7 linked regions of the Homo sapiens genome follow. Changing the gene in region 1 together with any one later gene gives a genetic interaction. Each region holds a gene or a part of one and is shown in the gene's direction. Other genes may lie near its edges.

Region 1 (3,500 bases):
AATAACCAAAATAAACAAATTGAAAGTATTTATTTACTAAATACTGAAATATTACTACCAGCAACAGCTTTATTGTCACTGGAATAGTGGAAAAGAATGGAAATTCCAGAAGCAAGCCAAAGAATAGATGAAAATGTATTGTAAATTAAAAGTTGCATTTAATTTAGTAGGGAAAGAATGCACTGCTCAGTAATTATTAGCTAAACATTTGAATAAAATTAGTTATATGTATCAGTCACACCATACACAAAAATAAATTCCAAATGGTAAAAGATTTAAATGTAAAAATCACACACATACACAAAAATAAATTCCAAATGGTAAGAGATTTAAATGTAAAAATAAAACTATTTAAACCATCCTTCTCCACAAAAAGAGTGATTACTTACATAATGTTAGGGGCGAGAAAGTCTTCCTTTGCACAGCTGCAAAGGTTGAATATATAATGGAAAAGATTAATGAATTTGAGTACCTAAATTTTAGGGTTTAAAAAAAAATAATAAAGACGGTTTTCTCTTTTTTTTTTTTTTTTTGAGACGGAGTCCTGCTCTGTGCTATGTCACCCAGGCTGGAGCGCAGTGGCACGATCTCAGCTCACTGTAGTCTCCGCTTCCCGGGTTCAAGCAATTCTCCAGCCTCAGCCTCACAAGCAACTGGGACTACAGACGCGCGCCACCATGCCTGGCTAATTTTTTTGTATTTTTAGTAGAGACAGGGTTTCACCATGTTGGCCAAGCTGGTGTTGATCTCCTGACCTCGTGATCCGCCCGCCCTGGCCTCCCAAAGTGCTGGGATTACAGGCGTGAGCCACCGTGCCTGGCCGACAGTTTTCTTATGGTTTGTTGCTTTATAGTCTGTGACGTGATGTAAAATATATGCTCGGTTTGTTCCACCAATATTGTTCTGCATAATAGTTTAGTTCTTAAAACAACCTCCTTTTTCCAAGTACCATTTGAGTTTCTGTACCCCTGTTTAGCAAGAGTTTTTTTTATTTGAATGTATATGAGGTTTCTTTCAAAGATCACAAATATGTTTAAATTAGTGATATATACATTTTCTGAAAAGAGAGTATAATTAGTGGAAGATATTAGTTCTATCAGTATCAAATCATGTTAGCATGTGGTCTTCCTAGTGTGGTATTAACATGCCCATTTTAGATTTCAATATCTAAAATGAAAGTAACTAATAATTGAACATCTGTCTGCTCTACTAATAAGTAGATATTTTTGCCTCATTGCTTCTTCTGATCACTTTATTAATTTATCAGAATGCCCAAGTGTTGTGAGGTCCAGCTACTTATATCATTCCTGCCCCCGGTTGAGCTTATTGCTTTTTTTCCTCTCTTTCCAGGTATCTGGCATAATTTTGTCCTTGCACTCTTGGGTATTTTAGCTCTTGTTCTCCTCCCAGTAATTCTCTTGCCATTTTACTACACTGGAGTTGGGGTGCTCATCACTGAAGTTGCTGAGGTAAATAATGGATTACTCAGGGCATTCTTTCATCAGATGTTGTGATGTAATACCTAGCATCTATTCAGAAACTTTTATTCAAGATCTCTTCATATACAAAATGCTTAGTTTCTTCTGAAGAAATTACTGTAGTCCTCTCAAATCTAACAAATAATGTTGGGAAACACATTGGTTTTTTTAAAGTTTCATGAAAATTGTTTTTGTCCTGATGCTGTACTTAGGAAGATAGTATCAAGATTTTCTACCTGTAGTTTATTGGTAAAATGCATCATTTACCTTTTCTGTTTATTTTTATATCTCTGCTTTTGAGTCAAATGTCTTTACGCCTCCTAAGTAGTAAGAAAGATGAAACCTAGGCTGTCCAGCCGTAACATTTCATAGGAGTTTAAGTTAATGTCTTCAACTCTGTATTTCACTCCCTTAGACAATAACTGCTATGATGGCATCAAATCTTGTATTCAGACATTAGAAAGAGGAAAATTACCTTTGTGAGCAATTGGCTTACATATACATTGTACTGATGGTATTGCCTGCATATTGGGGATATGAAAGGATGTGTCTTATTGTTTTATGCGTTAAGGATATAGGAAAGGCAAGACAGTCTGATGATACTTTCACCAAAAAATTTTTAATTGGCAGTTTGGGAAAAAATTTTATCATTTTAGTCTTAACAGTCAGCAAGTCGGCTTTTTTTCAATTGTGAAAAATTCAAAATCTTGGAGAATTTGGGAAAAGCAACTATAATTGTTGGGTTTTATTTTAATTTTCTAGGACTATGTCTTGAATTCAAAGCTGGATTATTTTCTGCATTCAAACTATTCACTTAATTAACTCAGTGTCTTTATTATTTGCTCAGATTAATTATAGCTTGTCTTCATGCATTATCTGATTTGGTTTTACCCTCTTCCCAAGGACTCTCCTGCCATTGGACCCAGAGGCCTTTTTGTGGGAGACCTTGTCACCCATCTACAGGATTGTCCTGTTACTAATGTGCAAGATTGGAATGAATGTTTAGATACCATCGCCTATGAGCCCCAAATTGGTTACTGTATAAGTGCATCAACTTTACAGCAGTTAAGTTTCCCAGTTAGAGGTGTGTATATTTCCTCAATATAATATAATGCTTCAAGCACCAGTACCTGCCATTCACTAATCCTTAAACCATGTCTATACATTTATTCTGTTCTAATCTGTTTAAAGCAAATCAGTAAAGTAAATAGATTCCAACCAATAGACATTTTTCTTGGTAAGTTGGATGCTAATATGTGTTTCCTTTATTATATATTGTTGAACTTCTAACTATTTTCATTATATCATATTTAACTTTTAGGACTCTAATATTTTCTGCTTTCAAAACACTTGTATTAAATCATAGCCGGGCGCAGTGGCTCACGCCTGTAATCCCAGCACTTTGGGAGGCTGAGGCGGGCGGATCACTTGAGGTCAGGAGTTCATGACCAACCTGGCCAACATAGTGAAACCCCATCTCTACTAAAAATACAAAAATTAGCAGGGCATGGTGACGGGTGCCTGTGATTTCAGCTGCTCGGGAGTCTGAGGCAGGAGAATCGCTTGAACCCGGGAGGTGGAGGTTGCAATGAGCCGAGATCGGGACATGGAAAGAGACTCTGTCTCAAAAAAAAAAAAAAAAATCAGCATTCAAGGTCAATCATAACCAATTAACTAATTCCAATAATCAAATACCCCAATATAATATTATCTTTATGCATGTCTGTAGATATATTATAGTACTTTAAACTTTTATAATTGAAAAAGGGAATATAAGTAATAAGAACCGGTTCTACTTTGCATAAGCTTATGTCAGAACAGATAAACAACGATAGTTAACAACTAAATATATAAAAATCAAAGCATAAACATTCTGTATTAATATATTGTTAGCCCAACACAGACATGCAATAAGGAAAGATTACAAGAAATAAGAAGGAACTTGGCAAACAAAAAACCCCATCTGGGATTTAGAAAAAATTCCCTTACTTCTTAAAAATTCCCTTAATACTTAAACAGTTC
Region 2 (3,500 bases), on another chromosome or scaffold:
ATTATAATAGGTCTTACTGAAAGATATCAGTGATCAAGTCTAACAAACTACTTTTTGTTTATGACCATTCAAATCATAGTATCTTTGTTAAAGAAGTAATCCCTCCCCAGCCCACACACATAGCAGTTGGGGCAGAGGGATGTATGCAGAGAGAAAGATTTATACCAAGTCATGCATACATGACTCTAGAGGGAGTTAGCAAGTCACAAGTATGGGGCTTCAGCAGTTCAGGTCTCTCGTACCACACTCCAGAAAGGACTTTAACAGTGATCTAGTCCAGTCCTTTTGATCGGCTCACAAAGAGACTAGAACTCAGGGAGCTGGGGTGACCTGCCTGAAGTGTCTGACTGGACACTTCTCCCCTCTGCCAAGTACTGAACAACCCTTTTAGATTGCAGGAGACAAATTACAAACTAGGGGCAGGGTTATACATAGTGCACATGAGAAGATTGTTTTTCATAAGCCTGATCTATACATGCTTTCCCAAACCACTAAAGCCTTCATACTAGGTTTGGCCAGGTGTTCTCAGTTCCAGAAAAGTCTTGAAGAAGCTTGCAGTTTCCTTCCAAATGCAGAAGCATACCATAGCAGCAGTGGCAGTGGTTTTGCAGGAGAGGCCTTGATGACTTGGAATACCTAGGAGGAAGGAGTGGAGGGCTGAAGTTGACAGTTGTCTCAATATTTCCGGTGCCATCTTCGCTGTAAGGGCATGAGCACAACATTCAGAGGCCGCCTCCCACTAGACGTTGGCTGCACGGGAAGGATTTTCTTGCATGCTGCGTGACTGTATATGGTTGTTATGCTTATGATATTTAATCTTTTTTATTTTAGCAGTGAACTGTTACCTGGTTATGTCACTTGATTTAGTTAGGGTGTTTCCATTTGTTATTTTTTTTAGTTACCTTTTTTTTAAGTTGCATTATTCTGTTTTCCTTTTTTTTCCATGTATAGTAAATATTTTCATTTGCATTTTTTTTTGAGTAAGCCCCTTGTTTTGACCTCATTTTAGCATTCCTTTTAAAATTTTGCTTCCTTTTACAAAACACTCATCTCTGTGTCTTGTAACTGAGCATCATGAGACATATTCCAAGGCAAGAGTGACCTCTGAACCATCTCTCCTGACTCCATACTCCATACTCTCCTGATTCCATTTTTTGAATGGGAAAGACTCAGGACATGACTCTCCTGTCTTGGCAATGCTAGAGGAAGAGGTGGTGGCCATTCAAGCATCTTTAATCCTCTTGGTGAAAACTTCCGCACCCCTATTTTTTTCAGCCGGCTGGAACGGGCTGTGGCTCAGCCTACCCTTCCCCCCCTTCACATGCCATTTTTACTAAATACACTTACAGTGAGTATGCTCCTGGCTTTTGTGGTTTGCTCCTCCCGAGTCAGATTTCCTTTAGCTAGTTTCAAGTGCCAGTTTCCAGGAGTTAGGAGATATCTCTGTTTCCATTGCTAGGGTTTATTTAGTCGACGGAAAGAGGACCCTGCTTTACCCACACAGGTTCCTCTGCAGTACAATGAGCTGAAGCTGGCCCTGGAGAAGGAGAAAGCTCGCTGTGCAGAGCTAGAGGAAGCCCTTCAGAAGACCCGCATCGAGCTCCGGTCCGCCCGGGAGGAAGGTAGGGGCTCACTCTCTCCAAAATGCTCAAGGATGTGGAAAAGGCAGAGGATTGATCTCAGTGAGATCAGCCAAGACTAACTAGCTCAGTGTCTTCGTTTATGGCCCATACGCTTTCAGACCAGACATCCCATGTCTGAAAAACGTATGGCCCCTGTGCATTGCCAAGTTGATGTGACGCATATTCTTTTGGTCTTGGGTCCTTGAAAGATAGCCCAGGGACATTCGGCTTAGTTTGGTCCTCTAGGCGACCCAGCTAACCAAAAGGCATTGTCCTGGTCTCTCTGCAGCTGCCCACCGCAAAGCAACGGACCACCCACACCCATCCACGCCAGCCACCGCGAGGCAGCAGATCGCCATGTCCGCCATCGTGCGGTCGCCAGAGCACCAGCCCAGTGCCATGAGCCTGCTGGCCCCGCCATCCAGCCGCAGAAAGGAGTCTTCAACTCCAGAGGGTACGTTGGAGTTGTATGGAAATTTCTTTTAGTCGACTAAGACATGTGGGCATATGGTAAAAATTACAAGTAATACTAGGGGTTAAAGATTAAAAAGTCAGTCTTGGCCAGGCACGGTGGCTCACACCTGTAACCCCAGCACTTTGGGAGGCCGAGGTGGGCGGATCACCTGAAGTTGGGAGCTCAAGACCAGCCTGACCAACATGGAGAAACCCCGTCTCTACTAAAAATGCAAAATTAGCTGGGCATGGTAGTGTATGCCTGTAATCCTAGCTACTCGGGAGGCTGAGGCAGGAGAATTGCTTGAATCCGGGAGGCGGAGGTTGCGGTAGCCGAGATTGCGCCATTGCACTCCAGCCTGGGCAACAAGAGGGAAACTCCATCTCAAAAAAAAAAAAAAAAAAAAGAAAGAAGTCAGTCTCCTGGCTCCCCATCCTCAGTGTTGGTTCATATATGTGACCACATGTCTATACCATTCATGTATCTTACATTGTGTGATTATATTTAAAGAATATGAGAAAATAGGCTGGGCATGGTGGCTCACGCCAGTAATCCCAGCACTTTGGGATGCTGAGGCAGGCGGATCACCTGAGGTCAGGAGTTTGAGACCAGCCTGGCCAACATGGTGAAACCTCGTTTCTACTAAAAATACAAAAATTAGCTGGGTGTGGTAGCATTCTCCTGAAGTCCCAGCTACTTGGGAGGCTAAGGCAGTAGAATCATTTGAACCCAGGAGGTGGAGGTTGCAGTGAGCCGAGATCACCCCACTGCACTCCAGCCTGGGTGATAAAGTGAGATTCCATCTCAAAAAAAAAAAAAAAAAAAGAAAAGAAAAGAAAAAAGAATATGAAAAAATAAGCACATCTCTCTCTCAGGCCTTTTTTCTTTTATAAATATTATAGTGGTGGCTCACGCCTGTAATCCCAGCACTTTGGGAGGCTGAGGTGGGCGGATCACCTGAGGTTGGGAGTTCGAGACTAGCCTGACCAACATGGAGAAACCCTGTCTCTACTAAAAATACAAAATTAGCCGGGTGTGGTGGTGCATGCCTGTAATCCCAGTTACCTGGGAGGCTGAGGCAGGAGAACTGTTTGAACCTGGGAGGCAGAGGTTGCAGTGAGCCAAGATAAAGCCATTGCATTCCAGTCTGGGCAACAAGACTGAAACTCTGTCTCAAAAACAAAAACAAGAAAACGTAAGCTTATCTTTCAGGCCTTTTTTCTCTTATAAATATCATAGCACACTACAGTATACACTGCAAGACACCTTCGTTTCATTAAAGTGCTATCTTAGAGGTTTCACATTAGTACATAAGGACCTACCCCATTCTTTCAGAGAACCACACAGTATTCCGTGGTGTGAGCATGCAATTCACCTGTTAAGCCAGGCTCCTGTTGATGGCCATTTAGGTTGTTTCCAATCCC
Region 3 (4,156 bases), on another chromosome or scaffold:
AATACAAAAAATTAGCCGGGCGTGGTGGCCTGTAGTCTCAGCTACTCGGGTGGCTGAGGCAGGAGAATGACGTGAACCCAGAAGGCGGAGCTTGCAGTGAGCCGAGATCCCACCACTGCACTCCAGCCTGGGTGACAGAGCGAGAATCCGCCTCAAAAATAAATAAATAAATAAACGTTTCCATATTCTTAGTGTCTGGGGCTAGGTAAAGTTTGTTCACTCATTAATATTCCAGGTGCCAAACCTGTGAGCAATGACACTCCAGTAGCAATGAGCATTTGTGGCATCCACATCTTGGTTTCTGAACTGTTGTCTGCTAAAAAGTAACCAAGGCTCCCTGAAGAAATGACTGCAGCAGGGAGAAGGGATGACTGAAACATCTTGTATCAGAAAGCAAGAAAATGCTCAAAGAAGCTGGATTAGTGCCCAAAGAACATAAGAACTGTCTTGAAGGGGCTTCACTGGCCACATCTGGGGGAAAAAAAATCGACCAGAAAGAATAATAATTGATTATAAAAGACAATTTTAAAAAATCCAGGAATCCATAGTGAGTCTTCGAAAAAAAAGAAAAAAAGAGAGGGTATAAAACTGATATATATTTATCATATATATAATCTATAGTTTTATATATATATATATAAATGCTGCTAAAATCACTGAGTGAAAGGCTGATAGAGAAGAAGATGGTCCCAGAGAGTACCTGTTAATTACAAATGGAAGAAGGAAACATTAAATGGAGAAATGGGGCAGACACCACCTTTAGCAAGCGATCAAGCTTCACATTACCAAAAACGGGACAAACTGACATTATCCAAGTGTGTTCTGCAGGAAAAAAGAAAAATTAACCTTTATCTAATTACAAGGCAAGAGGGAGGGGAGGATTAGACAAATCAAGAATATGGGATATTCTATTACACAACTGGTCTGGACCCGTCAAAATTATCAAGGTGATGAGACCCCCCCTAAAAAAAGAAGGACTGATCTGAATTAAAGGAGACCGAAGAGAAATAACTCCAGGCAGTGAGTGAATCCAGCAGGGGAGGGGGTCTAACAACTGAAATTGAAATATAAACTGTCTATTGGCTAATACTGCATTGGCTAGTACTGCATCGATATTAAATCTCTTGGGTATGAAAATGGCACTGATGTCATGAAGAATGGCTTTGTTCTTAGGAGATGCACTGCAGAAGTATTTATGATAGGAAATCTCTGAAAAGGAACAGACGTTGAGTCCCAGTCTTTCGGCCCAAGGTTCGCGCGTGCGCACAGCCCCCTTTCCGAGACTTATTTCGCGCGGTCGGAGAATCAGATTGTGCCCACAAGGCGGAAATGTACGACAGCGGGTTCCGGTGACCACGAAGGCGGCAAAGGCGACGGAATGGAGGAGGTGCCTCACGGTAAGCTCGCGGAGGGGGCGTGGGTCGCGGGGCGAAAGTGTCGGGAGCTGCTCTAACTGTGGTCTTGTCTCTGCGCAGACTGTCCAGGGGCCGACAGCGCCCAGGCGGGCAGAGGGGCTTCATGTCAGGGATGCCCCAACCAGCGGCTGTGCGCTTCTGGAGCGGGGGCCACTCCGGACACGGGTGAGAAAAGGGCAAGGCCTCAACAGGAACTTAGAGGCGCAGGCCCGGAAAAGGCGGGGCGTGGGAGGGAGGGGGCGGGATCTGCAGAATGACTGACAGCGGCAGGCTAGAAGGTATTGTATTCGGAGAGGGGTGGGGCCCAGAAGGGGCGGGGCGTGGAAAGTGGGCAGGGTGAGGGCGGAGCTTGGAATGACTGACAGGAACGAGGCCTTTAGAAGGCGAGCGCGAAGGACCTGGCGCGGATGGAGGGTGGAGACTGACCGGCGCGGAGTCGAAAGGGACATTAATTAAGAGGGTCGGGGCCAGAGGTTTGAGTGACAATAACAGACCGCAGAGAAAAACGGGATAAGCTTCGAAGTCGGGGAGTCTTCGGACTTACATCCTGGCTCTGCCAGCTACTTTCTTGACACAATTTTCTTCCTTTTGAGGAGTGATTCTCCCACTCATTCAGCAGAAATGTGTTGATCGCCTCGTAGGTTTGGTGCTGTCCTGGGGACACAGCTGGGGATCAGGCGTGGTCACTGCTCTAGTGGAGTTTAGCTTTACTGGGGAAACAAACACGTGAGCTAGCAACTAAACCACCGCAGCTTTAAGTGCTGTGAAGCACAGATTCCAGGATGAGAGGACCCAGGGAGCCTGCTCAGAAGGACCTTAAAAAGCAGGAGGCAGGAGGACAATATTTTTTTTTCTTTTTTTTCCCCCTTTTTTTTTAGACAGAGTCTTGCTGTGTAGCCCAGACCAGAGTGCAGTGGTGTGATCTCGGCTCACTGCAACTTTCACCTCTCAGGTTCAAGCGATTCTCGTGCCTCAGTCTCCCGAGTACCTGGGACTACAGGCGCCTGCCACCACGGCTGGCTAATTTTTATATTTTTAGTAGAACCAGAGTTTCACCATGTTGACCAGGTTGGTCTCGAACTCCTGACCTCAAGTGATGCATCTGCCTGGGCCTCCCAAAGTGCTGGGATTACAGGCATGAGCCACTGCACCTGGCCAAGGGGGAGAATCTTGAAGGAGTTCAGAGAGAGACTTGGATTTGATTCTTGGATCCATGCGGTGTGACCTTCAGCAATAGTCCTAACCTCTCTGAGCTTCTGGTTCCTCATCAAAAATGGAGACAGGCCGGGTGCAGTGGCTCACGCCTGTAATCCCAGCACTTTGGGAGGCCGAGGCGGGTGGATGGATCACTTGAGGTCAGGAGTTCGAGACCAGCCTGGCCAACATGGTGAAACCTGTCTCTACTAAAAATACAAAAATTAGCCAGCATGGTGGTGCATGCCCGCCCTCGAGGCTGAGGTGGGAGGATCACTTGAACCCGGGAGGTGGAGGTTGCAGTGAGCTGAGATCGTGCCACTGCACTCCAGCCTGGGTGACAGAGTGAGACCCTGTCTCAAAGAAAAAAAAAAATGAAGAGAAAAATAGTTATCTCTGTCAATGCAATGGAGAGACTGAACTGAGCCTCAGTGGAGGTTTATTGGGCCAGAGCTTGAGGGCGTGCCCTGGAAAATACAAGTGACAGAAACATCTGTGGCCTGTGCTCGATGGAGTGGTTCCAGAAGGCTGGTGTTTATATATTTCATTAAAAGGGGAAAAAGCATGCAGGAAAAAGTGCAGTAGGCCTCGTGGCAGGTAGTTACATTCTTGTGAGGTTTTAATTCGTGCCCAGTATATCTACACTATTCAGAAAATAAAGTAAACATTCAAAAGAGGGAATAAAGGAAGAATTAATTAGGCAGACGTCTCAGGGTAGGAGAGGAAGGACTATCTCATCCCATCTTTGTTTGGCATGTGGGAGGATAAGCTTGTAATGGACATGGTCAGTGTGGCGTTTAACAGACATCAGTAATAGGGAAGGAGTTAGACTGAGGTTACAGTCCTAAAGTTACAGTTGGCATGTCCTTGTTTATGGGAGGATACTCATCTTCAAAGATTTAGGGGCCAGCAAAGGAGTTCCTTAGGAGCAACTTGTGAGGGCAGTCATCCCACAATGGATTGCATGGGGCCTTTGGCCTTTTGCAGGTGTCTGGTTAATGTAGAATGCTTTGACACAAGGTTGGGAAGTAACAGCTGTCTGTTGATGGGGAGGAGGACAGCAGTGTTGGGAGGTTTCCAGGCTTAACTTTCACTTGAGTTTGGCCAGTCATGAGACTTTTTAATTTCCTTTATACCTCGTGTATTGTTTTAAGGATTTGAAATAAGATAGTTTCATTGGCAGATACTTAGTATGTGCCTGCTGTCTATCAGAGTTTCTCAACCTCAGCACTGCTGACATTTGGGGCAGGATCACTCTTTGTTGTGGGGGGCTGTCCTGTGCATTGTAGGACATTTAGCACAATCTGGGCTGTACCCATTAAATGCCAGCAGTACCTCTCCTGTGACAATGAAAAGTGTCTCCAGGCTGAGCATGGTGGCTCACACCTGTAATTCCAACACTTTGGGAGGCCAAGGTGGGTGGATCACTTGAGGTTGGAAGTTCGAGACTAGCCTGGCCAACATAGAGAAACACCGTCTCTATTAAAAATACAAAAATTAGCCAGGCATGGTGGCAGGCACCTGTAATCCCAGCTACTTGGGAGGCT
Region 4 (3,500 bases), on another chromosome or scaffold:
CACAACAAAGAAAATGCTATGAGGCGGGTTATGAAATATCCATGAGCAACACTGGCTGGATGGGAGCTGCAGTGCTCCTGGCCTGCCTGGAGGGGGCAGCCTTACCCACCTGATTGGTGCTCTGTATTTAGGCCTAGTGTTGCCACATCTTCTAACCGTAGGAAAATTTAGAAATCTGATTGTGAAGTATAATATCTTCTAAATGTTGACAACTAATTCAAATTAAGAACAACAACAACAAAAGCCCCCAAACTGTGTGAGCCAAACAAAACCTATTTGGGAATTACTAGTTTGTGACATCTGGCTGAGGCCTGGCAGCCCCTGAGGATAATCCTGTCCTGGGTTGAAAGCTGACGCTGCGGTTTCTTCTTCCCTCTCTTAGTGACAGCATCCACTACCAGATGGTGTATTCTTACGGCTCTGGGGTGGTGTGGGCCCTCGGAGTTGTTCCCTTCAGCCATGTGAACATTGTCAAGTTTAATGTGGAAGATGGAGAGATTGTTCAGCAGGTACAGGAGGGTGACAGGAGCCTGTGAATAAGGTGGGGTTGGGGGAGACTTGATAGATTTCTTTGTACTGGGGAACAGGGAACTTGGCTGGGCAGATGCAAAAGCTACTTATGCTCCCTCATTCTGGTCACTTGCCAGCTGCCTTCCCATTAGGCCTCTATTTAAAGTACTCATATTTGCATGTGTTATCTTCTGGGGTGGCTAAAAAATTACATAGATCTAGTCTCTGCCTGTAAGTATCTTACAGTGCTGTGAAATCACAGTAGGACACCACATATGGCAAATATAGTAAAGAAGTGCTGATTCTGAAGTGCCAGGTATTTAAAATTATCGGATATATTTTTCCAGTGACCAGAAAGAAAATCCTGATATTTTTTCCAACTTTGAAGGCTCTCAGGAGGTTGGAGGGTGGGGTTTCAGGGGACAGGAAGAACTCCTATACAACCAACCATGAAGAACCTTTGAGCTTAGGACCCCCAGTGGGATGCTGGCAGCAATATTGCTGTTGGGCTGAGAGGGAAATGTAAAAATCTTTCACGAGCTTCCTGTTAACGATGACTTTTCTGTAGGTTAGGGTTTCAACTCCGTGGCTGCAGCACCTGTCTGGAGCCTGTGGTGTGGTGGATGAGGCTGTCCTGGTGTGTCCTGACCCGAGCTCACGTTCCCTCCAAACTTTGGCTCTGGAGACGGAATGGGAGTTGAGACAGATCCCACTGCAGGTGAGAGGCTGCCACTGCTTCTTCTGGCCTGAGGCATTTCCTGCGGGGAGTAGAAAGTTTGGCATGATTCCCCTGGAGGGTCTTTCTCCTAGACTCTTCCTGAGCAGTGGAAGCCATTCAGGCCTCTGGCTGAACTGGTGTAAGAGGAAATCAGTCACTTTCCTCTTTGGGGAACTTGAACTGGAGCATTTGGAGCCACCTGCCATGGCCCAGTTACTTCCCCCGGCAAAGTAGGGCAGAGGTTGTGAGCCTGGGATGGGTCAGGGAGTCGTCAGCTGTTAGCCATAATCCTCCTCCTTCTTGCCTTCCAGTCTCTCGACTTAGAATTTGGAAGTGGATTCCAACCCCGGGTCCTGCCTACCCAGCCCAACCCAGTGGACGCTTCCCGGGCCCAGTTCTTCCTGCACTTGTCCCCAAGCCACTATGCTCTGCTGCAGTACCATTATGGAACGCTGAGTTTGCTTAAAAACTTCCCACAGGTAACTGCAGGCAACATGGTTTGCTAGGATTCAGGAGATCTCTCCAAGACATGGATGCTAGAAGGCAGTGCTTTTGAATCTGGAAACGTTTGCTCTTAGGCCCAAGATTGATGACACCTTCCCGTAAGTGGTTTGAGAGGGGGTAGGTAGCCTTATCATAGAAATGGTGTATTTCCTCCTGAGTATTACAAAGGATCTTTAGAGCAAAACTAGTGCCTTCCTTAGTCCAAAGGAAATATGGGGACATAAATGAGAGCTTCCCCATAGATAGTAAGAACAAGCAGCATGGGATTTAAGATTGACCTGTGCCTGCGTTGGAGGTAGGGAGAGTTCTGTTTTCAGCTGTAGATGCAACTGAGGCCTCCCTCTGCTCTTAAATGCCTGACCATTCTGCTCCAAAGTGGGGAGCACTTTCAACTCTAAGGCCAAGGGCCTTCCCTGGAGAGGTGACCCTCTGTAAGGCAGCTGGCTAGTACTGGTCCCATTTAGGAGCTGATGCCTTGCTTTTCCCCCAGACTGCCCTAGTGAGCTTTGCCACCACTGGGGAGAAGACGGTGGCTGCAGTCATGGCCTGTCGGAATGAAGTGGTGAGTATTGAGAACAACAGTCAGCACTTGGGATTTTCCTTCCTGGTCTCCACTAGGAACCCTGAAAATCAGAAGTCTGGGCACATTGACCTGGTCAGTTTGAACCCAGCGGGCAGGAGGCTGTTGAGAAGTGAGGTCTTGCCTCAACTATAGAGCTTTCTGCACACCCCATTTCTCCCCAGGAACGAGACCCTAATGTGATGACCTTACTTTCATATGGGGCTATTAAGGGTTGAATAGGCTTTGTGGGCAGGGGTGAGAAATGAGCTTTGTCTTCTCTCAAGTGCTAAGAAGACAAAAACAAAAGCTTCATTTCAGTGACTGGGAAGTGACCCTTTGGCTGAATTTTCTCCTGTCCTTCTCTTTCTCATAGCAGAAAAGTAGCAGTTCTGAAGATGGGTCAATGGGGAGCTTTTCGGAGAAGTCTAGTTCAAAGGTATGGTGTGGCACTGGGCAGTATGCCAGACCTAGAGACGCAGGAGGCCACCAAAGAGAGTTGGGGGAAGAGCTTTGGTTAGGAGCAGGTCCTAGAGTTCCCAGCTTCAAATGAGGTTTCCTAAGTACTGTAAATTAAATGATGTTTCTCTTAATCTCATTTTACCGGGAGATTAGGAGGTAGAATCCCTAGAGTCTGTTTCTAGCCACTTTCTCCTCTGGGCCTCAGCGTCCCCATTTCTTTTGGGATCCTGGCTGGCACAGTTGAGTAGTACTCTGTGCAGTTACCCTGTAGCAGAGGCATGAGCCCCTGGCTGGAGGCATAGGTTCCTGCTGTGGCTTCCATCTAAGCGTTTCCCTGCCTCCTGTCTTGCTCAGTCTTACCTTGCTCAGCCCTACCTCTCTCTCAGAAGTCTCTGCTACTCTGTACTGGCTTCCAAGACAAGTATGGTAGTTGTAATTTCATTTATTTACTCAGGCACCTTATTTCTGCCTTAGGATTTAGCTTGCTTTTCTCTTTTATTCTCCTTTGCATATATTTCCCCTTCTGGCCTGGCTCCTTCTCTAGGGTATTTGCCCCCAATCCTTGGACTTCCTTTGGTGGGCTTTGCTTTCGGGGGATACCTGTAGTTGACACGTGCTGTCTGTACTCCTAGGACTCTCTGGCTTGCTTCAATCAGACCTACACCATTAACCTATACCTCGTGGAGACAGGTCGGCGGCTGCTGGACACCACGATAACATTTAGCCTGGAACAGAGCGGCACTCGGC
Region 5 (3,500 bases), on another chromosome or scaffold:
TTCCTCTAATTTAACATATTTTTGATAGCTATTTGAAAGTCCTTGATTGCAAATTTCAACATCTAGTCACTTACAGTTCTGTAATCTGCTTCTTTCTTGATTGTGAGTCACCTATTTCTGCCTCTTCATTTGGCTCATGTTTAATTGTATATCTGGCATAGACACTTGAGTACATATTTTCCTCCAGAGAGGGTACACCTTTTCTTCTATCAGGAAGATAGGATAAGGGGCTGATCACTTTGATTCAATTAGGAGTTGGGCTGGGTTGAAACTTTAATTTCATCTCACCTCTTAGTATAGGTGTCTTATTAGGAGATACATCTTGTATGTGTTACTGACACTCACACCCATACCCTACTCTTGCTAACAAGACTAAGGGATCTGATGACCACAATACTATTATGATGTCTCCCTGCTTTCCAGCCCATTCCCAGCTTCCCACCCAGTACACTCAGCCAAAGTCTTGTAAGGGGGAAGCATTAGGTGGGGAAAAACGAGCTATATGTTTGTGGTTCCTACAGATGACAATCTGTAACTCAAGTCCACAAGGTCATTGAAAGCCCTTCTAGTTTTTGCCTACCTCAGCAGAGTCCCTCTGATTATGCAAAGCTTGATCTTTCTTGTACCTTCTCCTCATACTCAGCAGATATGACCAGGGAGAAAGCAGCCACCGATACTAGGAAAGATTTGTCCCTCTCTTTTCTTCAAAGTACCACTTGAATTATCTAGTTGGTTTATTACCTGTCTCTACCCCTAGATTGTATACTTTTTGAGAATAGAGAGAGTTCTGGTCACTACTCTGTAGCCAGTGCCCATAAAGCTATGTTATCTCTAGCTATTTAATTTGTATTTGCTAAGGTTTTTTCCTGGGTTATTTCAAACACTGGGGTGGAATTGAACAGGGGATGATTTCGTTAAACAAGTAAGTAGAGGTTATTCCTAGAAGCCTGTATAAACACAGAAATGGCAGCAAAAAGTGAAGAAAGATTCTGGAGAGTAACCAGCTATTACACACACACACATACACACACACACACACACACACACACACACACACAGATTTGAGGAAAACTCAGTGGAAAGGCAAAGGAATCTCTACATGACAGTACCAAAGTCTTCATTGATTACATTATGTTCTATTCATTAATGTTGACATTACTGAGCCTTTATTATCAGGTATACTCATAAACATAATTTATTATTATGTTTAGTATATTTTTAACTAATGGTAAGAATGTATAATATGTTACATAAACATTTTCATCAATATAAAATCTTCAATAATTTAATGGAGAAATCTTTACTTTTCAGCAATAATTGTATAAAAACAAGTTCTCAACCACATTAGATAAATAAAACTTATTTCTGTATATGCAAACAATGAGAACTAGATTAAAGGGCCCAAATATTAATATAGGTATTTTATGACAAATTCAGTTCTTTTAAAGCTACTTTAAGGTTGTCTTGATGTCCTCCCAAAGCATAATATTTGTATGAATACCTTAATTGTTCCACATTTCATTATAAAATACTTTAGTTTTCTAGTAGCTATTGGAAAGCAAAGATAAATCATCAGAATTATTACAGATTTTATTCCTTTAAAAAAGTTCTTTTTTTTTTTTTTGAGACAGAGTCTCACTCTGTTGCCCAGGCTGGATGGAGTACAGTGGCGCAATCTCGGCTCACTGCAATCTCCCCCCCCCGGGTTCAAGCGATTCTCCTGCCTCAGCCTCCCAAGTAGCTGGGATTACAGGTACCCACCACCATGCCCGGCTAAATTTGTGTTTTTAGTGGAGATGGCGTTTCACTATGTTGGCTGGGCTGCTCTCGAACTCCTGACCTCAAGTGATCCGCCCGCCTTGGCCTCCACAGTGCTGGGATTACAGGCGTGAATCACCACATTCAGCCTAAAAAAAGTTCTTTATCAGGCCGGGTGCAGTGCCTCATGCCTGTAATTCCAGCACTTTGGGAGGCCGAGGTGGGCGGATCACGAGGTCAGGAGTTCGAGACCAGCCCGGACAACATGGTGAAACCCCATCTCCACTAAAAATACAAAAATTAGCCAGGTGTGGTGGTGCATGCCTGTAGTCCCAGCTACTTGGGAGGCTGAGGCAGGAGAATCGCTTGAACCCAGGAGGCGGAGGTTGCAGTGAGCCAAGATCGCACCATTGCACTCCAGCCTGGGTGACAGAGCGAGACTCTGTCTCAAAAAAAAAAAAAGAAAAGTTCTTTATCTAGATAAAGAAATGCTCTGCATTCTGAGTTCATTTTTATTAACTTTTTTAGTTACTAAATTAACACTTTCTATATTCAGGGCAACGTGGACTTACTCTAACTTTTTGCTTTTAGTTCGTGAAGTGACCGAACCTCTGAATTTAAATCCAGCTAAACGGCCTCGTCGACAAGACTGGGATGGAGAATTATATGAAAATGGCTCATTTTATTTTGCTAAAAGACATTTGATAGAGATGGGTTACTTGCAGGTTTGTACCTTCATTTTGCATAACCCTTTTAAGCGCTTTTGTAGGCATACTTTGAGTTCTAGGGAAGAAGTATGGTACAATTTCTTTATGATAAAGAAAAGTATCAACCTATAGAGGAAAGGTAATAGCCAACAACATTTGCTATCTGAGGCATTTATCCTGCAGGTTTACCCCAAAGTGATCTTTGGAATCCATTCAGTAAATATGCAAGGAATTCTGCTACAACGATAAAAAAATGAATCAAGTACTGGGTGTCTACACATGTCCTGGTACTCATATTATTCCACTCAAAACTACGTAATCCATGTTTGTGTTATAGTTATATTGTGGCTGTAGGGTTGAATAACTTCTATTGCTTTAAAAAGACAAATAATTTCATAGAGGTGAAAAGAGTTACAACCTGGGTGTCAGGAAACCCGGAATCTTTTTATATATATATATATATATATTTTTTTTTTTTTTTATTATACTTTAAGTCAACTGCCTCTTACTATGTAAGCTTGAATATGTATCATTTTATCTGTCCTGACTCTCATTTTCAAATAACAGATTTAATGTCTCTCTCATTTTAGAGCCTGCAACATGGTTGCATCATATATTTCTTAACTTGTTAATTTTAGTTATCATTATTATTTATTATTTACTGTGTACTTCGGAGTAGGTGAAACACTTTGCATATGTTATCTTATGTAATCTGCATAGCGAATGAATGAAGTGGACATTTCTACCCAGTTTTACAGAGGAGGAAAACTGCCTCACTGAAATATGAAGTAATTGACTCAAGGCAAAAACAGCTAATAAATGGTACTGTCAGGATTTGGATTCAGGTTCTTATGTTACTCAAGAAATAGCGGTTTTAAAGAGAGAGAGAGAAACCTCTCCATTGTGTAATAAAAATTCTAATGGGACTATTATTCTGAGCAAAAGAGAGAAAAACATTTTTACAAATCTTCTGGTCAATGTGTAGGCAAACTATAGACTAGCTGTTTAGTTAAATTTAAGTGTTCAGAAAAATTG
Region 6 (3,500 bases), on another chromosome or scaffold:
AGTTCACTCATGGAAAAGAAATTAAGTAGAAGGTTGTGCGAAAATCGGAGAGGAAGCTTGTCACAAGAAATGGCCAAAGGAGAAGAAAAATTAGCAGCAAACACTTTGAGCACTCCCAGCGGTTCCTCCCTTCAGAGACCAAAAAAGAGTGGTGATATGACATTGATCCCTGAACAAGAGCCAATGGAAATTGATTCTGAGCCAGGTGTTGAAAATGTGTTTGAAGTATCTAAAACCCAAGACAACCGCAATAATAATTCTCAGCAAGACATTGACTCTGAAAATATGAAACAAAAAACTTCTGCCACTGTTCAAAAGGATGAATTGAGAACTTGCACAGCAGATTCAAAAGCAACAGCTCCAGCTTATAAGCCAGGCCGTGGAACAGGAGTTAATAGTAATTCTGAAAAGCATGCCGATCATAGAAGCACCTTGACCAAGAAAATGCATATACAAAGTGCTGTGTCCAAAATGAACCCTGGGGAGAAAGAACCCATTCATAGAGGAACTACTGAAGTGAATATAGATTCTGAAACTGTTCATAGAATGTTACTGAGTGCCCCATCAGAAAATGATAGGGTACAGAAGAATTTGAAAAACACAGCTGCTGAAGAACATGTTGCTCAAGGAGATGCCACTCTTGAACATTCCACAAATTTAGACTCCTCACCATCCTTAAGTTCAGTGACTGTTGTGCCTCTGAGGGAATCGTATGATCCAGATGTAATTCCTCTGTTTGACAAAAGAACTGTTTTGGAAGGTAGCACAGCCAGCACCTCCCCTGCGGATCACTCTGCTCTCCCTAACCAAAGTCTGACTGTTAGGGAATCAGAAGTCCTTAAGACAAGTGACAGCAAAGAAGGTGGTGAAGGTTTCACAGTAGATACACCAGCAAAAGCAAGCATCACTAGCAAAAGACACATTCCAGAAGCTCACCAGGCTACTTTATTGGATGGTAAACAAGGAAAGGTAATCATGCCTCTTGGAAGTAAGTTAACGGGCGTGATTGTGGAAAATGAGAATATTACCAAAGAAGGTGGCTTAGTGGACATGGCCAAGAAAGAAAATGACTTAAATGCAGAGCCCAATTTAAAGCAGACAATTAAAGCAACAGTAGAGAATGGCAAGAAGGATGGCATTGCTGTTGATCATGTTGTAGGCCTGAATACAGAAAAATATGCTGAAACTGTCAAACTTAAGCATAAAAGAAGCCCAGGTAAAGTAAAAGACATATCAATTGATGTTGAAAGAAGGAATGAAAACAGTGAGGTAGACACCAGTGCTGGAAGTGGCTCTGCACCCTCTGTTTTACACCAAAGGAACGGACAAACTGAGGATGTGGCAACTGGGCCTAGGAGAGCAGAAAAGACTTCTGTTGCCACTAGTACTGAAGGGAAGGACAAAGATGTCACCTTAAGTCCAGTGAAGGCTGGGCCTGCCACAACCACTTCTTCAGAAACAAGACAAAGTGAGGTGGCTTTGCCTTGCACCAGCATTGAGGCAGATGAAGGCCTCATAATAGGAACACATTCCAGAAATAATCCTCTTCATGTTGGTGCAGAAGCCAGTGAATGCACTGTTTTTGCTGCAGCTGAAGAAGGTGGGGCTGTTGTCACAGAGGGATTTGCTGAAAGTGAAACCTTCCTCACAAGCACTAAGGAAGGGGAAAGTGGGGAGTGTGCTGTGGCTGAATCTGAGGACAGAGCAGCAGACCTACTGGCTGTGCATGCAGTTAAAATCGAAGCCAATGTAAATAGCGTTGTGACAGAGGAAAAGGATGATGCTGTAACCAGTGCAGGCTCTGAAGAAAAATGTGATGGTTCTTTAAGTAGAGACTCAGAAATAGTTGAAGGAACTATTACTTTTATTAGTGAAGTTGAAAGTGATGGAGCAGTTACAAGTGCTGGAACAGAGATAAGAGCAGGATCTATAAGCAGTGAAGAGGTGGATGGCTCCCAGGGAAATATGATGAGAATGGGTCCCAAAAAAGAAACAGAGGGCACTGTGACATGTACAGGAGCAGAAGGCAGAAGTGATAACTTTGTGATCTGCTCAGTAACTGGAGCAGGGCCCCGGGAGGAACGCATGGTTACAGGTGCAGGTGTTGTCCTGGGAGATAATGATGCACCACCAGGAACAAGTGCCAGCCAAGAAGGAGATGGTTCTGTGAATGATGGTACAGAAGGTGAGAGTGCAGTCACCAGCACGGGGATAACAGAAGATGGAGAGGGGCCAGCAAGTTGCACAGGTTCAGAAGATAGCAGCGAAGGCTTTGCTATAAGTTCTGAATCGGAAGAAAATGGAGAGAGTGCAATGGACAGCACAGTGGCCAAAGAAGGCACTAATGTACCATTAGTTGCTGCTGGTCCTTGTGATGATGAAGGCATTGTGACTAGCACAGGCGCAAAAGAGGAAGACGAGGAAGGGGAGGATGTTGTGACTAGTACTGGAAGAGGAAATGAAATTGGGCATGCTTCAACTTGTACAGGGTTAGGAGAAGAAAGTGAAGGGGTCTTGATTTGTGAAAGTGCAGAAGGGGACAGTCAGATTGGTACTGTGGTAGAGCATGTGGAAGCTGAGGCTGGAGCTGCCATCATGAATGCAAATGAAAATAATGTTGACAGCATGAGTGGCACAGAGAAAGGAAGTAAAGACACAGATATCTGCTCCAGTGCAAAAGGGATTGTAGAAAGCAGTGTGACCAGTGCAGTCTCAGGAAAGGATGAAGTGACACCAGTTCCAGGAGGTTGTGAGGGTCCTATGACTAGTGCTGCATCTGATCAAAGTGACAGTCAGCTCGAAAAAGTTGAAGATACCACTATTTCCACTGGCCTGGTCGGGGGTAGTTACGATGTTCTTGTATCTGGTGAAGTCCCAGAATGTGAAGTTGCTCACACATCACCAAGTGAAAAAGAAGATGAGGACATCATCACCTCTGTAGAAAATGAAGAGTGTGATGGTCTCATGGCAACTACAGCCAGTGGTGATATTACCAACCAGAATAGCTTAGCAGGGGGTAAAAATCAAGGCAAAGTTTTGATTATTTCCACCAGTACCACAAATGATTACACCCCTCAGGTAAGCGCAATTACAGATGTGGAAGGAGGTCTCTCAGATGCTCTGAGAACTGAAGAAAATATGGAAGGTACCAGAGTAACCACAGAAGAATTTGAGGCCCCCATGCCCAGTGCAGTCTCAGGAGATGACAGCCAACTCACTGCCAGCAGAAGTGAAGAGAAAGATGAGTGTGCCATGATTTCCACAAGCATAGGGGAAGAATTCGAATTGCCTATCTCCAGTGCAACAACCATCAAGTGTGCTGAAAGTCTTCAGCCGGTTGCTGCAGCAGTGGAAGAAAGGGCTACAGGTCCAGTCTTGATAAGCACCGCCGACTTTGAGGGGCCTATGCCCAGTGCGCCCCCAGAAGCTGAAAGTCCTCTTGCCTCAACCAGCAAGGAGGAGAAGGATGAATGTGCTCTCATTTCCACTAGCATAGCAGA
Region 7 (3,500 bases), on another chromosome or scaffold:
TTCCTGTGCAACCCTCACCTAGATGTCTGCCAGCAGTTGATCTCTCTGCCTTCTTAAAAAGTTATGTAAACTCTTATCTAGAATATCTGGGGTTTTTAGTTCAACTGACTGGACATATACAGTATAGAAACTCATTTTTTTTCAGTGGGTTTGATAATATTCTCAACTCTAGATCAAGAACTTCCCATTACTTAACCTGTCTTTGATGATCCTGAAAGTTCCCTAGATGGGAAATAGATCTGGCAGTATGTCAGGGTCACTAATTTTCCCTGGATAGTATTAAAATATATAGAAGGTTTGCTACTTTTCCTGGCCCTGGATAATCTGTCTGAAAAGAGTTTGTGTGAATGAAGTTTTCACGTATTTGCTCTTCATGTCATCCTGTAGGCTCAGAATGAACAATACAGGGAGATTCATTTTGCTTATCTATAGTTTCTAAATTTTTGGTAATGAAAATTATTACTTTTGTAAAGAAAGTTATAAAAATACTAACAATTAAATATAAAAATGCAGGGTGCTTGGATCTCAAAATAGGAGCTTACTGTGATTAAAAGTCAGACTGCATATAATAATTAGTTATAATTAATAATGCTTTTTCTTTCTTTGTTTACATGAAATCTTTCAGAAAATAATAATGCTTTTTCAAAGATTGAATTTTTGGTAAATGTTTATATTTTGGCTAGCTTAAGTTTTCCCCTTTCTCTGCCTCTCATTTCTAGAGTCACCAGAAGGAAAATGTAAAACATTTTTTAAATGGCTCTTTCCCTGTAAATCATCCAGCACACACACTGCATTTTTTCTAGTTTCAGGCATAAAGGGAAACCTGGCTCAGATAAGAATGATCCTTGCTGCATGCTCAGCGGCTCATATATCTTTCTTTTTAAATTATTATTTTTTACTTTTTAATATTTATGTATTTTTAATTTTTTTAGTGACAGGGTCTCCGTTGCCCAGGCTGCAGTGCAGTGGCGCCATGCCTCGAATTCCTTGGCTTCTGGATGATCCTCCTAATTCAGCTTCCTGAGTAGCCAGGACTACAGGCCACCATGCCTGGATAATTTTTTAATTTTTAAAATTTTTTTTGTGGAGAACAAGGTCTTGCTTGGTTGCCCAGGTTGGTCTTGAATTCCTGGCCTCAAGCAATCTTCCTGCCTTGGCCTCCCAAAGTGTTGGGAATACAGGTGTGAGCCACTGTGCCTAGCTATCCTTTTTTTTTTTTTTTTTTTAAATTCTGAGAGTCTCTAGCTCAAACACAAGTTAGCAGGTTAAGGACTACTCCAAGTTCTGGCAGAGCTAATTTTTACTACTTGGTCTTCAAAAAATAGAGGCTTTTTTAAAAATTTTTTTTGTGACAGAGCTTCACTGTATTGCCCAGGCTGGAGTGCAGTGGTGCGATTGTGGCTCACTGAAAACTTCGCCTCCCGGGTTCAAGTGGTTTTCCCGAATAGTTGGGATTACAGGTGAGCGCCAGCATACCCAGCTAATTTTTGTACTTTTAGTAGAGACAGGGTTTCACCACGTTGGCCAGGCTGGTCTCAAACTCCTGGCCTCAAGTGATCCGCCCTCTTCAGCCTCCCAAAGTGTTGGGATTACAGGCGTGAGCCATGGCACTTGGTCTTGTAACTCCTTTTTGAACATAACTTCAAAGTGAAGGCCTTTGCCCATGAGCTCTTTGACATCATCTGGTGTCCACTGGTGACCCATCAGCTCCAGAACTTTCTACTTTGTCTTGGAAGCTTTGCTGGTTTCTGTGGGCATGGCCATGGCTGCTCTGGTCATCTGCTCCTGCCTCATTTCTTATTGGTCAGTTGCCATTATCTTGGCCTAGAATCACAGTAAATTCTCTGAAGCCCAAATACGTTGAGGAAATACCAGGATGCAGAGCTCATTCAGGGTGGATCTAATGTGAGTAGTTTGATAACTTGCTGCAGCATAGGCTTAAAACCAGAGGGTCGGCCGGGTGCAGTGGCTCATGCCTGTAATCCCAGCACTTTAGGAGGCCGAGGCGGGTGAATCACCTGAGGTCAGGAGTTCGAGACCAGCCTGGCCAACGTGGTGAAACCTTGTCTCTACTAAAAACACAAAAATTAGCTGGGCATGGTGGCAGGCACCTGTAGTCCCAGCTACCTGGGAGGCTGAGGCAGGAGAATCGCTTGAACTTGGGAGGCAGAGGTTGCAGTGAGCCGAGATTGTGCTACTGCATTCCAGCCTGGGCAACAGAGTGAGACTCCGTCTCAAAACAAACAAACAAACAAACAACAACAACAAAAAACAGAGGGTCAGTGGAAATAGGACCTTGGTTGCAACAATGCCTGAGTATGTCAATGTTGATCCATTCACAAGTAAGAATCATAGGGATGACGTTTGTTATATTTCCTTTCATCATGCCTGAGAGCATAGTGGGAGGAAGTGGTGATATTTTTATCCTCTGGGTTGTTGATGTAATATTCTCATGTCAAGAAAAAGACTTTTTGGGAATGTAATTTCCATTTTCACTGAAGGCTCTGCTTCAAATTAGGACTTAACTGTCAGATACTTGCTCCTGGGTGAGCTTCTTGTCGCTCTGTACCAGGATGAACATGTAGTGGCAGATCATATCTGAGAAGAAGCAGATGATAAACATGGGCGGGACCATCCAGTGGCTGACGCTGGAGTTGGACAGTAGCTCCTACCCTCTGTCTTCACTGAGAGCTGGTCTGGCTTCTCCTGGGGTGCCGGGGCTCTTTGGGTTTTCGTCGAGGCCTTCGTATGCTCCTCAGCCTGGGCATTATCTTGGCCTAAGACTGGCCAGGACCCTGCTATAGCCTCGGGCCTAGTGCAGTGATTCCAACTCCTCCAGCTGGGCTGCCAGTGGCCCATGGCAGCCCTGCATCCATTTGATTTTCGCTAACTCTATCTGGAGACTATAGAGTTCTAAACAGAAACCAAAAGCTCCCTGACGTCTTTTTGCTTGTTCTAAGCCATCTCTATTAAGACCATATTTTAGAGTGAAAGTTATTAAACCGTAGAATTTTGTTTGATCACTCTGACCCCCACTTGCTTCAGTGAAAAAAAAAAAGAAGCAGGCTACAAAACATTATGTACTACATGAATTCACTTTGTGAGAACACAAAAAACTTTTATTTATCACTGCCTACCACACAAAATAGTAAGGATTCAATAAAAAATTGTAGACTAATGGCTGAAATGATTGAAAGAATACACAGGAAAAATGAAGTTTTATGCACCAAATTGTTAACTGGACTTATTTCTGTTCCAGGACTCTAGTTGATTATTCTTTTTTCCAAATTTACCACAGCGAATATATAACTTTTACTTAATATTTTAAAAAAGTGTTGTGCTTTCTCTTGTTTATAAGTGGTGAGAGACTGATGAAAGTGAAAGTACTTGTAGAAAGAACTGTGTAGCAAGTCAAAAATTCAGTCATTCCCTGAAATGTTGTAATCTATGAAGGAGTTTTATTGTCCTTTTACTCTGAAAGGCAACACAATAGTTGGGTT

What was found.
Region 2: changes in MBTPS2 (region 1) and CIT together harm fitness more than expected from each alone (negative genetic interaction), as found in Homo sapiens cells (one large-scale study listed by BioGRID).
Region 3: changes in MBTPS2 (region 1) and NUBP1 together harm fitness less than expected from each alone (positive genetic interaction), as found in Homo sapiens cells (one large-scale study listed by BioGRID).
Region 4: changes in MBTPS2 (region 1) and EMC1 together harm fitness more than expected from each alone (negative genetic interaction), as found in Homo sapiens cells (one large-scale study listed by BioGRID).
Region 5: changes in MBTPS2 (region 1) and CMAS together harm fitness more than expected from each alone (negative genetic interaction), as found in Homo sapiens cells (one large-scale study listed by BioGRID).
Region 6: changes in MBTPS2 (region 1) and BOD1L1 together harm fitness more than expected from each alone (negative genetic interaction), as found in Homo sapiens cells (one large-scale study listed by BioGRID).
Region 7: changes in MBTPS2 (region 1) and CYB5B together harm fitness more than expected from each alone (negative genetic interaction), as found in Homo sapiens cells (one large-scale study listed by BioGRID).

Annotation. Positions count from the first base shown.
Region 1 is NC_000023.11:21,867,117-21,870,616, forward strand, and holds part of MBTPS2 (membrane-bound transcription factor site-2 protease), read left to right. Parts: intron 1-1,350; coding exon 1,351-1,469; intron 1,470-2,381; coding exon 2,382-2,562; intron 2,563-3,500. UniProt on the Homo sapiens protein: Zinc metalloprotease that mediates intramembrane proteolysis of proteins such as ATF6, ATF6B, SREBF1/SREBP1 and SREBF2/SREBP2.
Region 2 is NC_000012.12:119,716,821-119,720,320, reverse strand, and holds part of CIT (citron Rho-interacting kinase), read left to right. Parts: intron 1-1,459; coding exon 1,460-1,622; intron 1,623-1,911; coding exon 1,912-2,076; intron 2,077-3,500. UniProt on the Homo sapiens protein: Plays a role in cytokinesis. Required for KIF14 localization to the central spindle and midbody. Putative RHO/RAC effector that binds to the GTP-bound forms of RHO and RAC1. It probably binds p21 with a tighter specificity in vivo.
Region 3 is NC_000016.10:10,742,486-10,746,641, forward strand, and holds the start of NUBP1 (cytosolic Fe-S cluster assembly factor NUBP1), read left to right. Parts: upstream 1-1,356; 5' UTR 1,357-1,378; coding exon 1,379-1,397; intron 1,398-1,475; coding exon 1,476-1,580; intron 1,581-4,156. UniProt on the Homo sapiens protein: Component of the cytosolic iron-sulfur (Fe/S) protein assembly (CIA) machinery. Required for maturation of extramitochondrial Fe-S proteins.
Region 4 is NC_000001.11:19,238,025-19,241,524, reverse strand, and holds part of EMC1 (ER membrane protein complex subunit 1 isoform 1 precursor), read left to right. Parts: intron 1-382; coding exon 383-509; intron 510-820; exon of another isoform or gene 821-1,078; coding exon 1,079-1,228; exon of another isoform or gene 1,229-1,268; intron 1,269-1,539; coding exon 1,540-1,707; intron 1,708-2,222; coding exon 2,223-2,294; intron 2,295-2,667; coding exon 2,668-2,730; intron 2,731-3,385; coding exon 3,386-3,500. UniProt on the Homo sapiens protein: Part of the endoplasmic reticulum membrane protein complex (EMC) that enables the energy-independent insertion into endoplasmic reticulum membranes of newly synthesized membrane proteins.
Region 5 is NC_000012.12:22,056,218-22,059,717, forward strand, and holds part of CMAS (N-acylneuraminate cytidylyltransferase), read left to right. Parts: intron 1-2,349; coding exon 2,350-2,483; intron 2,484-3,500. UniProt on the Homo sapiens protein: Catalyzes the activation of N-acetylneuraminic acid (NeuNAc) to cytidine 5'-monophosphate N-acetylneuraminic acid (CMP-NeuNAc), a substrate required for the addition of sialic acid.
Region 6 is NC_000004.12:13,600,226-13,603,725, reverse strand, and holds part of BOD1L1 (biorientation of chromosomes in cell division protein 1-like 1), read left to right. Parts: coding exon 1-3,500. UniProt on the Homo sapiens protein: Component of the fork protection machinery required to protect stalled/damaged replication forks from uncontrolled DNA2-dependent resection.
Region 7 is NC_000016.10:69,441,619-69,445,118, forward strand, and holds part of CYB5B (cytochrome b5 type B), read left to right. Parts: intron 1-3,500. UniProt on the Homo sapiens protein: Cytochrome b5 is a membrane-bound hemoprotein functioning as an electron carrier for several membrane-bound oxygenases.